Linked DNA regions of Homo sapiens: region 1 is linked to region 2. The links come from fine-mapping of genetic effects on gene expression. Tissue or cell type: whole blood. Region 2 holds a variant in brackets; the other region holds the start of a gene. All regions are shown on one strand. Distances are from middle to middle.

Evidence for each region. PIP is the estimated chance that this variant, and not a neighbour inherited with it, causes the effect.
Region 1: it holds the start of ANXA2R, and the variant in region 2 is fine-mapped to the expression of ANXA2R in whole blood (TOPMed, PIP 0.95).

What each region holds. Positions count from the first base shown.
Region 1 is chr5:43,038,196-43,043,195 of GRCh38, reverse strand. ANXA2R (annexin A2 receptor) reads left to right here and starts at 2,877. Exons shown (of 1, transcript NM_001014279.3): 1 at 2,877-3,825. The coding sequence starts at 3,150. The coding sequence ends at 3,731. The region is part of intron 2 of ANXA2R-OT1 (ANXA2R overlapping transcript 1); the gene reads left to right. ANXA2R-AS1 (ANXA2R antisense RNA 1) reads right to left here and starts at 1,062. Exons shown (of 2, transcript NR_015447.1): 1 at 1-1,062. RefSeq lists enhancers at 19-218, 299-508, 1-529, 729-1,018, 1,489-1,568 and 4 more and a silencer at 2,614-2,883.
Region 2 is chr5:43,165,983-43,172,130 of GRCh38, reverse strand. The region is part of intron 5 of ZNF131 (zinc finger protein 131); the gene reads right to left. Among named protein-coding and RNA genes, the nearest start is that of NIM1K, 23 kb to the left of the region's middle. The variant G/A (reference allele first, on the strand shown) is at 3,137.

The DNA.
Region 1 (5,000 bases), 130 kb after region 2:
AGCGCCGCTGGTTTCACAATTTCGCGGGTGCCCCCCACCATCCCCAGCCCGCAGCATAATCGGTGAAGGGAGCCTGCGGTTTCTCCGCCGCGCCTTCGCCCGTTGCGTCCTGCGAAGCCAGTGGAATCGGTGGTCACAAGGTTGGTTTCACCAAGTCGGGCGTTTCTTGGCACTGGCACCGCTCTGCGCTTTTGCTGGCCCAGGCCGGTCTCAGCACCGTTAGGTGCTCTCTAAAGGCGACTGTCTGTCGTGGTTAGGAAAGCTGCTATGGGACGACAGTTTTTTAGAAGTTTCTAGTCTAGCCCAGCTGGCGGTTTCTGGATCGCAGAACCACTGATTGCGCGGAGCTGGATGTACTTCTGTGGCCGCGCATGTTTCTCTGTGGTATCCCTACGGCTGTCGTCGAAATCGCGGTGTTTCTCTGGCCCCACCGCCACGTGGGCAACTTCTTCAGTGGCTGCGGGGTTCTCTCCACTGAGTTGCTGGTTTTGATCCACGCTTTCTCCCAGAGAGCAGACGAGACACTTTTCTGTTTGTGTCAACTGCTAGTCGTGCTGTGCACAGTTTCCTCGTCTCGGTGCGGGGCTTTCTCCATCCGAGGCCCTCTAGTGCCGGCTTCGCGGTCGCAGCACCCGGCGTTTCCGTTGGCTCTTTCGCCAGCGGCGCGAAGCCGGCGGTTTTGCTGTCACAGCACTTGCTGCACGGAGTTTCTCGGTAGCCGAACTTCTCTTTTTTTCTCAGAGTCGACGGTTTCTTGGTGACGGCACCGCTGGTTGCGCCAAAACAAATGTTGTCCTTGACAACCCCGCCGGCTGCATTCCCTTTCAGGCTCCTGGCACCGCCATTTCGGCGAGCCGTGGTCTCTTGTTCACAGCTCTGTGCCTCCATTTCTCGGTGGCGGCAGCCCTCAGGCCGCGGATCTGAGAGATTTAAAGTCGCAGCTGCCCCCGTTGCGCCGAGTCTGGCGTTGCCGGATGGGTGCTGCAGGGCTGGGCGGGGGGAGCCCGACGCTCCTTGGAGCCGGTGACAGGGGAGCTGCAGGGGCACAGTCTCTTCCCAGCGCCGCCGCACGGGTTCCGGCTCGGCCTCCAGAACGCAGTCCTGTGGCGGCGCCGCCGGCGTCTCTGTCGCAGGACCCCACGGTTTCGCGCGTCGTTGGCTTCTTAGTCCTAGCAAGTTTCGATTTCGCGGTGCCTGGGATTTCCACCCTCTGTCCAAGTAGGGGAATAGCCAAAATGTATTTTCTCAGCCCAAGCAAGTCCTGACTTAAGACAAACACCGGTCTAGCCCTGGCTGCGATATCTAGGCCGTAGGAACTCACCCGTTTCCCCATGCGAAGGCGAAGTTACCCTGTGACTCGTTGGTCAGCAGCTCCGGGTTTCCAGTGGCCTCGGATTTCTAATCATAACAACCATGGGGTCAGCCTAGCCTCAAGTTTCTTAGTCCTAGCAAGTTCCGGTTTCCTACTGGTAAGACTTGCTTTAGCTGCGCAGGAAATGTTTAACTCCTGTGGAAATCTGGGTACCAGCGAATGCTTTTTTTTTTTTTTTAAAGGTTTAGCGATGACCAGTTTAGCAGTGTTGGGAGCTCTTATACCAAGTTTGGTTTCGCAATATCGAGTCCTGTCTTAGCTATGCTTGTGTGTTTTTAAAACTCCCGTGGAAGTCAGGAAATGCCGGCGATCGCGATGTCTCAGTTTTACCAAGCTCCCTTTGACAATAGCAAGTCCTGCCCATCGAGACTTTTTCCTCTTGTAGACCAAATCGGGATGTACCAGCTACTACGATTTTTTAGACGTAGCTAAACACGTTTAACCGTGGATATTTTTGTTTTTTTTCTCGTAGGAAATTATGACAGGAGCAACCTGCAGGGGTTTAGATCTGACAGAAATATTCTAATGGTAGGCATTGCATCGCTTAGCCATATTTGTAATTTCTTCTTTGTAGGGTTGGTTCTCTGTAACTTTTGCTTACCTTAAAATTATTTTTGTGTCTTGCTCTGAGGACAATGTTACCGATGTGTTTTTCATTTTTACTTGCATTTCAGACTTTCATTATTTTAAATTATGTATTTTTTTTTTCTTCTAATTTTGAGCGTCTCAGATTCGTGCTTCTTGACTTTCATTCTCTCAGGAGCCGGGGAGCCGAGCTCGGTCTTAGCCTCGCTGGTATCAGGTTCCGGGTTCTGTCTGGAGGCTCCGCTTCCTATGCAGAGCTGGCGGTTTTGTATCAGCACGTTTGCCAGTGGCGCCCACTGGGCGTTTTCTCAGTTGCTGCACCCAACGTGACATTTCCCGTTCGCGGGGTCCTTAGGTTCTCAGTGCTGTCACTTTTTCGCTCCTACAACCGCTAGTATCTCCTAGGAACTTCCTGAACCCCGTTTTGCCGTGCAGAACGGTGATTGCACCGAGCCGCTGTTCGCACTAGTAATTGTGTGGTACCATTAGCCGGCGCTTTTTCTGTCACAACCCATTAAAACGGGTTAAAACATATTAAACCTATCAAACACATTGAACGGATTAAAACACATTAAATGCCGCAACACATTTTTCTGGTACAACACATTGAAACAGAGTTGGTTCATTCCTCCAAACAGGTTGTTTAGGTGTGGAAGCACCGCTCTTAGTTCTAAGAGCATGCTGTTTCTCTTTAGCAGCACCCTTTACGGCGCCAAAACGGATATTTGTTTGGCAATACCAGCGCTATCCGCTAGGTGCCGGCGCTTGCTAAGTTCAACGCGCCAGTTTCTCGTTTGCAAGGTGGTTAGGGCAGAGCCCTAGCAGACAGTTTTCCGGTGGCAGCAACGCTCATTTCCCGGAAACGGGTGGTTCTTGGCCCTTGCGCGCTCTTGAATACCTGCGTTCTGTAGCGCTAGTTCTCTTCAAGATTTGCTTAGTGTCATTTCATTTCGGTTTCTTTTCTCGCCATGTTTTTCTGTCGGAATTACGGTTCGTTTTGGTTCTATGTACTCTCTAAAATGTTATCGTTTTTCATTTGTCTACTAATTTTCGTGCATTTGTTACTACTGAGTTTCTTAATATCTGACTGGCCTCCGCCCACGGGCTCTGCAGAGCATAAATACTCAGGCTGATGGTAGTGCAGAGACTCTCCCTCCTTGATCAGCGCAAACGTTGGTCTGAGGCTTGAGGGATGGAGCAACATTTTCTTGGCTGTGTGAAGCGGGCTTGGGATTCCGCAGAGGTGGCGCCAGAGCCCCAGCCTCCACCTATTGTGAGTTCAGAAGATCGTGGGCCGTGGCCTCTTCCTTTGTATCCAGTACTAGGAGAGTACTCACTGGACAGCTGTGATTTGGGACTGCTTTCCAGCCCTTGCTGGCGGCTGCCCGGAGTCTACTGGCAAAACGGACTCTCTCCTGGAGTCCAGAGCACCTTGGAACCAAGTACAGCGAAGCCCACTGAGTTCAGTTGGCCGGGGACACAGAAGCAGCAAGAGGCACCCGTAGAAGAGGTGGGGCAGGCAGAGGAACCCGACAGACTCAGGCTCCAGCAGCTTCCCTGGAGCAGTCCTCTCCATCCCTGGGACAGACAGCAGGACACCGAGGTCTGTGACAGCGGGTGCCTTTTGGAACGCCGCCATCCTCCTGCCCTCCAGCCGTGGCGCCACCTCCCGGGTTTCTCAGACTGCCTGGAGTGGATTCTTCGCGTTGGTTTTGCCGCGTTCTCTGTACTCTGGGCGTGCTGTTCACGGATCTGTGGAGCTAAGCAGCCTTAGATAGCAGCAGAAGGCTTTTTGGATTCTCCTCCTTGAAAAGATTCTCAGTTACCAAACGTCTCCACCTAGAAAATAAAAATACATTAAGATGTGCTTTCATTGCTGGTTGTCAGTTTTTAAATTCTCTTTTTCCCTTATGTTTCTTTCTTGTTTCGCGTCGCTTATTACTTTCAGTTTCCTTGTATTTTAAATATTTGTATTTATTTCATTAAATATTTCATTCGTATCTGTTTTCACTTTGAGAAATCTATTTTACGATTGTAGAATTCTTAGAGTTTTTGGCAAATTTAAAATTTGTTTTTTTCCATTGTATTTTAAAATCTTATTCCTACTATTTTTCTAATTATTGCTTTTTAAATGTATTGTTTGTTTACATTTAATTTTATATCATGTCTTTTACGTTATTATAACGTCTTTTTAATTTTAATTGTTAATTTTATTTTTAACAGCGGTCTTTCTTTTTTTCAGTATATCGATTCATTGTTTTACACTCAGGAATTTTATTCACGATCATAAGACTGAGAGGTTTATCAATCTTTGCTATTTCTCGTGGAAGGACCACGCAATTACTTATATTAATACAACTTCACAGATGACCAGTTCTTAAGATTACTTATTCTGGCGGGGCAGCGTGGCTCACGGCAGTAATCCCAGCACTTTCAGCAGCGGAGGCATGCGGATTGCTTGAGCTCAGGAGTTTGAGAAAAGCCTGGGCGACAGGGTGAGGCCTGTGTCTACAAAAAATGCAAAAGTTAGCCCTGTGAGATGGTGTGCACCTGTAGTCCCAGCTGCTCCGGAGGCTGGGGTGGGCGGGTTGCTTGAGCTCAGGAGGTCGAGGCTGCGGTGAGCCGGATAGCACCAACGCCCTCCAGCAGAGCGAGAGCCTGTCTCAAAATAAATAAATAATTGAAAAGACTACTTATTCATGGGTCTCAGGGCTAGCAGTGTTTCCAGCGTCTTTTTCTTTGGAACAGTTTAGCTTGGCTTATAAGAGAACTACCAGTTACTTAATGGTACCACAACTGGGTTTAGCAATTCGGGTAGGCACAGCAGGTCCGGCTTGGCCCTGCCTGCTTTGACTGCCTTTTCGGGAGTTTTAAACCTCCTACACTCGGAATGTAGCCCTGATTGTGGTTTCTCTGCATAGCAAGTTCGGACTTAAGCGGAATAAGTATCGGCTTATTTCGCCTGCGATAAAGATGCTTAATTCTGCGTTCGAAATATTCTGAGCGAGTCCTGGGTTAGGGATTTCTTAGAGTAACAAGTGCA
Region 2 (6,148 bases):
GCCCACTGCCATGGGGCAAGAGTGAGTGAGAAGGATGACAATGAAAACAGTCATTACCAAAATTCCTTTAAGAAGGCCTACAAGGCCAAACATGGTGGCTTATGCCTGTAATCCCAGCAGCACTTTGGGAGGCCAAGGCAGAAGGATTGCTTGACGGGAACAGCCTGGGCAACATAGTGAGACCCCATCTCTATTTAAAAATAAAACGGCTGGCCCGGGGCGGTGGCTCACACCCGTAATCCCAGCACTTTGGGAGGCCGAGGTGGGTGGATCACTTGAGGTCAGGAGTTCAAGACCAGCCTGGCCAACACTGCGAATCTCCGACTCTACCAAAAATACAAAAATTAGCTGGGCATGCTGGCACGAGCCTGTAGTCCCAGCTACCTGGGAGGCTGAGACAGAACTGCTTGAACCGGTGAGGCAGAAGTTGCAGTAGGCTGAGATCACACCACTGTACTCTAGCTTGGGCGACAGAGCGAGACTCCATCTCAAAAAAAATAAATAAATAAAATGGCCTACAAGAGAGATGACTACCTAGAGGGGAGCATGTCAATAATAGCATTCTTTTTTTTCAGACGGAGTTTCGCTCTTGTTGCCTAGGCTGGAGTGCAATGGCATGATCTCAGCTCAGAGTTTCACCATGTTAGTGAGACTGGTCCTGAACTCCTGACCTCAAGTGATCCACCGTGCCCAGCCAATAACAGGATTCTTTAAGCCAGGAGGGACATCCATTATTTATTTGTTGATGGGCAAAGAGGCAATGGAGAAAGGAGATGGAATGATAGATGGGACATGGTTTTAGAGGGACATCAAGGCATGGGATCCAGAATTGGCTTTGAAGAAAAGGGAAACCTCTTTCTCTAGAATAAAAGAAGAGGGGACAGACCAGGTGCGGTGGCTCACACCTGTGATCCTAGCACTTTGGGAGACCGAGGCGGGTGGATCACGTGAGGTCAGGAGTTGGAGACCAGCCTGACCAACATAGTGAAACCCTGTCTCTACTAGAAATAAAAAAATAATTAGCTGGGGGTGGTGGCAGGCACCTGTAATCCCAGCTACTTGGGAGGCTGAGGTACGAGAATCACTTGAACCCAGGAGGCAGGGGTTGCAGTGAGCCGAGAACAGGCCATTGCACTCCAGCCTGGGCGACAGAGCGAGACTCTGTCTCAAAAAAATTTAAAAAAAAATTTAAAAAATCGCCGGGTGCAGTCATCACACCTGTAATCCCAGCACTTTGGGAGACTGAGTCGGGTGGATCATAAGGTCAGGAGTTCGAGATCAGCCTGGTCAATATGGTAAAACCCCATCTCTACTAAAAAAAAAAAAAAAAATTAGCTGGGCATGGTGGCAGGCGCCTGTAGTCCCAGCTACTTGGGAGGCTGAGGCAGGAGAATCACTTGAACCTGGGAGGCGGAGGTTGCAGTGAGCCGAGATTGCACCACTGCACTCCAGCCTGGGTGACCGAGTGAGACTCCGTCTCAAAAAAAAAAAAAAAGGGGACAAAGATGAATGCTGTTACAGGTAAGTTGGGGGTTGGAAGATAAGTAATCTGCTGGAGATGGGGTGTGGACAGAGGTCTTGAATATATGGAGAAGCTCTGAAATAGCAATTAGGAAAAAGGGATAAATCAGACACTGAAGTGCTTAAGGTTTGAGATATGAATTTCCTCCAGCAGTCCTCAGCAACCAGCAGGTAGGAGTAAATAACTGAATGATTCCAGGATGGAAGGTGGAGCCCCAGTAATGAGGAGGTCCTAGATGTGAGCCTCACGCTTAAATAGAATGACACAGTCAAGTAACTGAGCTATATGTATTATCTGACAAAACATTTATAGCTTATTTTGTACAATTTTTATGTGATGAAAAGTTAATTTGAGAGAAAAGACCTAATTAGCTGGAATTAGTGTAATACAGAAACTCTTTTCAACTCCCAAAATGATGGGCAATATCACTAAATGGTTTAGTGGTTTTATCAATGAATAATTTTTCATTATCAGTGAGACCTGGAAACAAATTGGCAAAGCCTCTCCTTAAATGACAATTTGATAATCTTTGTCAAGATATAAAATGTGCATATTATTAGGGAGGATGAGGCAGGCAGATCACAAGGTCAGGAGTTTGAGACCAGCCTGGCCAACATAGTGAAACCCCGTCTCTACTAAAAATACAAAAAATTAGCCAGGCGTGGCGGCGGGTGCCTGTAAGCCCAGCTACTCGGGAGGCTGAGGCAGGAGAATTGCTTGAAACCAGAAGACGGAGGTTGCAGTGAGCCTAGATCACGCCATTGCACTCCAGTCTGGGTGATAGTGCCAGACTCTGTCTCAAAAAAAAAAAAAGAAAAAAGTGCATATTCTTTGACCTGGCAATTCTGCTCTTAAAAATGAAATTACTTGAACATATGAAAAGGCATATGTACAAGTATGCTTACTACAGCATAGTCTGTAATACCAAAAGCCTAGCAACAACCTAAATGTTCATCAATAGTAGTTGATGATATACCCATAGATTAAAATACTGTGCAGCCACAGGAAGAAAATTTAAATACTCATAAATGTTCCATATATTTTTTAAAATGACAAGATAAATTAAATGGCATAATGCCGTACTACCGCATGCTCGCTTGTTTTCCCAAAAGCATGCGTACCTGAGCGTCTATGGCTACCTGAAAATGCAAGGAATGTATCTGATAAATCAGAAAAGGATAGCAGTAGTTACTTCAAGAGATCTACCTGAGTAGAAACGAGACTCAATTTTCATTGTGTGCCATCTGAGCTTTTTCCTATTTAAAAAATTAAGTAAACTCAGTAAAATGTAGAAATAGAAACATATTAATTATTTTAGATGTGTGGACAGTACAGTTTTCAATGCGCTTTCATCATTTTCTTATTTGTCACAACCCTATAAAGTAGGTATCTTTATCCTTATTTACACAGACAAGAAAAGCCCAAAGATAAAGTGACTGGTCAAGTTCATCATGCTGGCAAATGCTGAACTGGAGATGGAACTGAAATTCTGATTTCTGGACACACATTCCCTCTATGATTCCACACTACTTTTCTTGGAAACTAGGGAGTAATTGTTTGAAAACATGGCTAAAGGTTACCTCTAGGTTCTCTTTGACACTGTGTCCCACAGGT[G/A]TATCTGTCAACATGTCTGGTATTTCCCTCCTTCCCCATCTGTTTACTCATCTACGTATTTTTTTCTAAGTTAATTAGCCTCCAATCAAACAGCCATCTACATCAGAAAGCTGGGAGTCACCAGCTCTTTTACTCCTGCACCTCACCGACCACCAAATCCTATTGATCCAGGCTACCTAATGTTACTCAAATCTCTCTTTTCCGCTAACACTGCCTTTACCCAACCTCCCATTCTGGTTTGGACGACTCCAAGATTCCTCACTGAGCTAGCAGGTTTCAACCCACTCCAATCTATCTTGCCAGTCATCTCTCTAGAATATCAATCTGATGAGATCTCTGCCTGGCTGAAACTCCTTTAAAATGACCCAGTCTTCCAAGATATTATTCAAACTCATTTATGGAATTTATGAAAATAACTACATGATCTCAAACTCATCTCTCATTACTCTCCCTCTTTCTTACCCTTACTCCACTCTAGATCTCCCATATGATGGCCAAGTGCATGCCACATGGTTAGCCCTTCCAACCCCTTTGGCCACATCTCCTGGCATTCCTCTAATTGGACCTAACCCTCTGGCCATAATGCCCTATTAACAGTGATCCAAACAATTTGTTTCCTCTCATTCCTCTGTGACTGTGTATGTTTCATTTCCTTTGCCTGGAATACCTGTTTCGAGGCTAACTCCTTTTCCTTTCTGAGTCATCAAAGGGTAATGACCCCCAGAAGCCACCTGCTATAGTTTGAATGTTTGTCCCCTTCAAAACTCAGGTTAATACCGAAACCCCAATATGGTAGTATTGAGAGGTAGGACCTTTAAGAGGTGATAGGATCATGAGGGCTCTGCCCTCATGAAGAGATTAATCCATTCATGGATCAATGAATTAATGGGTTATCATGGGAATGGGATGGGTGGCTTTAAAAGAAGAGTAAGAGAAACCTGAGCTAGCATGCTCAACTCCCTCACCATGTGATGCCCTGCATGGCCTCAGGACTCTGCAGAGTCGCCACTGGCAGGGCTCTCACCAGATGTGGCCTCATAACAGTGAACTTCTTAGCATCCAGAACTGTAAGAAATAAATTCCTTTTCTTTATAAATTCTCCAGTTTCAGGTATTGTTATAAGCAACAGAACAGACTAAGATATCACCTTTGTCTCTTCCATCACAAACAAGCAACCCAGGCAGGCATTCCCACAGGATTCTGCTTACTTTGGTCAGCACTTAACATGTTACACAGATTGCACATGCTTGTCCCCTGCCAGCATATCCTGAGCTCCTTGAAGGCAGGGACACTGACACTGTTTTATATTCATGGCCTAGTGGTATATGGCATTATCATTACTATTTTCCAAATAAAAATAAATTCAGAGGACAAAAAATAGCTAAAATTTTACAAATCAAGCCACAGATTACAGTGCATGCTTTATGAACATACAAGAAACCAAACCATTAAACTAATAAAAATATGCAAAATATGAAACTAATGGGGTATATACGTTTTGAGAATAAGAAACAGGAAGAGGACTGTCTCCTGTCTTCACAGTTTGTTACAAGGAAAAATGATCCATTTTTTATTAACTTAAACATAGTTTAAAACTGCTTACAGACCTAATTTTATTGTGCTTTACTTTATTGGACTTTTTGAAAAACTGAAGATTTGTGACAACCCCGTGTAAAGCAAGTTTATCGCTGCCATTTTCCCCAACAGCATGTACTCACCTCACGTCTGTCACTGTAATTACTGCAATATTTCAAATTTAAATTTAAATTTTTAAATTATGTCTTATAATGATCTGTGATCAGTGATCTTTGATGTTACTACTTCAATTGTTTTGGGGTGCCCTGAACCCACACCCATAACAAAGAGCTTAACTGATAAATGTTGTATGCATCCTGACTATTCCACCAACCAGCTTTTCTCTCTTCCCTCCCTCTCTCCTCTAGTCTCTCTATTCCTTGAGAGGCAACAATATTGAAATCAGATCAATTAATAACCTTACAACAGCCTCTAAGTGTTTAAGTGAAAGTCACGTGTCTCACCCGGATGCGGTGGCTCATGCCTGTAATCCCAGCACTCTGGGAGGCTGAGGCGGGTGGATCACGAGCTCAGGAGTTCAAGACCAGCCTGGCCAAGATGGTGAAACCCCGTCTCTACTAAAAAATACAAAAAAAAATCAGCCAGGCCTGGTGTTGGGTGCCTGTAATCCCAGCTACTCGGGAGGCTGAGGCAGAGAACTGCTTGAACCCGGGAGGCAGAGGTTGCAGTGAGCCGAGATCACGCCACTGCACTCCAGTCTGGGCGACAGAGCGAGACCCCGTGTCAAAAAAAAGGGTCACGGCTGGGCATGGTGGCTCGTGCCTGTAATCCAGCACTTTGGGAGGCCGAGGGGGGTGGATCACGAGGTCAAGAGATCGAGACCATCCTGGCCAACACGGTGAAACCCTGTCTCTACTAAAAATACAAAAAATTAGCCAGGCATGGTAGCGGGCACCTGTAGTCCCAGCTATTTGGGAGGCTGAGGTAGGAGAATGGCGTGAACCCAGGAGGCAGAGCTTGCAGTGAGCCGAGATCGCATGACTGCACTCCAGCCTGGGCGACAGAGCAAGACTCTGTCTCCAAAAAAAAAAAAAGAGTCACTTGTCTCTCACTTCAAATCAAAAGGCAGAAGTGATGAAGCCTGTGAGAGCAAGGCATATCAAAAGTCGAGACAGGCCGAAAGCCAGGTCTCCTATGCCAGGTAGTTAAGTTGTGACTGAAAAGGTAAAGTTCTCTAAGGAAATTAAAAGTGCTACACTAATGAACATATGAATGGTAAGAAAGCAAAATTGCCTTACTGCTTATGAAGAAAGAGTGAGTAACCTGGATAAAAGATTAAACGAAACAAACATTCCCTTTAGCCAAAGCCTAACCAAGAACAAGGCCCTTTCTTCAATTCTATGAAGGTTGAGAGAGGTAAGAAGTTGCAGAAGAAAGGGCAGAAGCTAGAAGAGGTTAATGAAATTTAAGGAATTT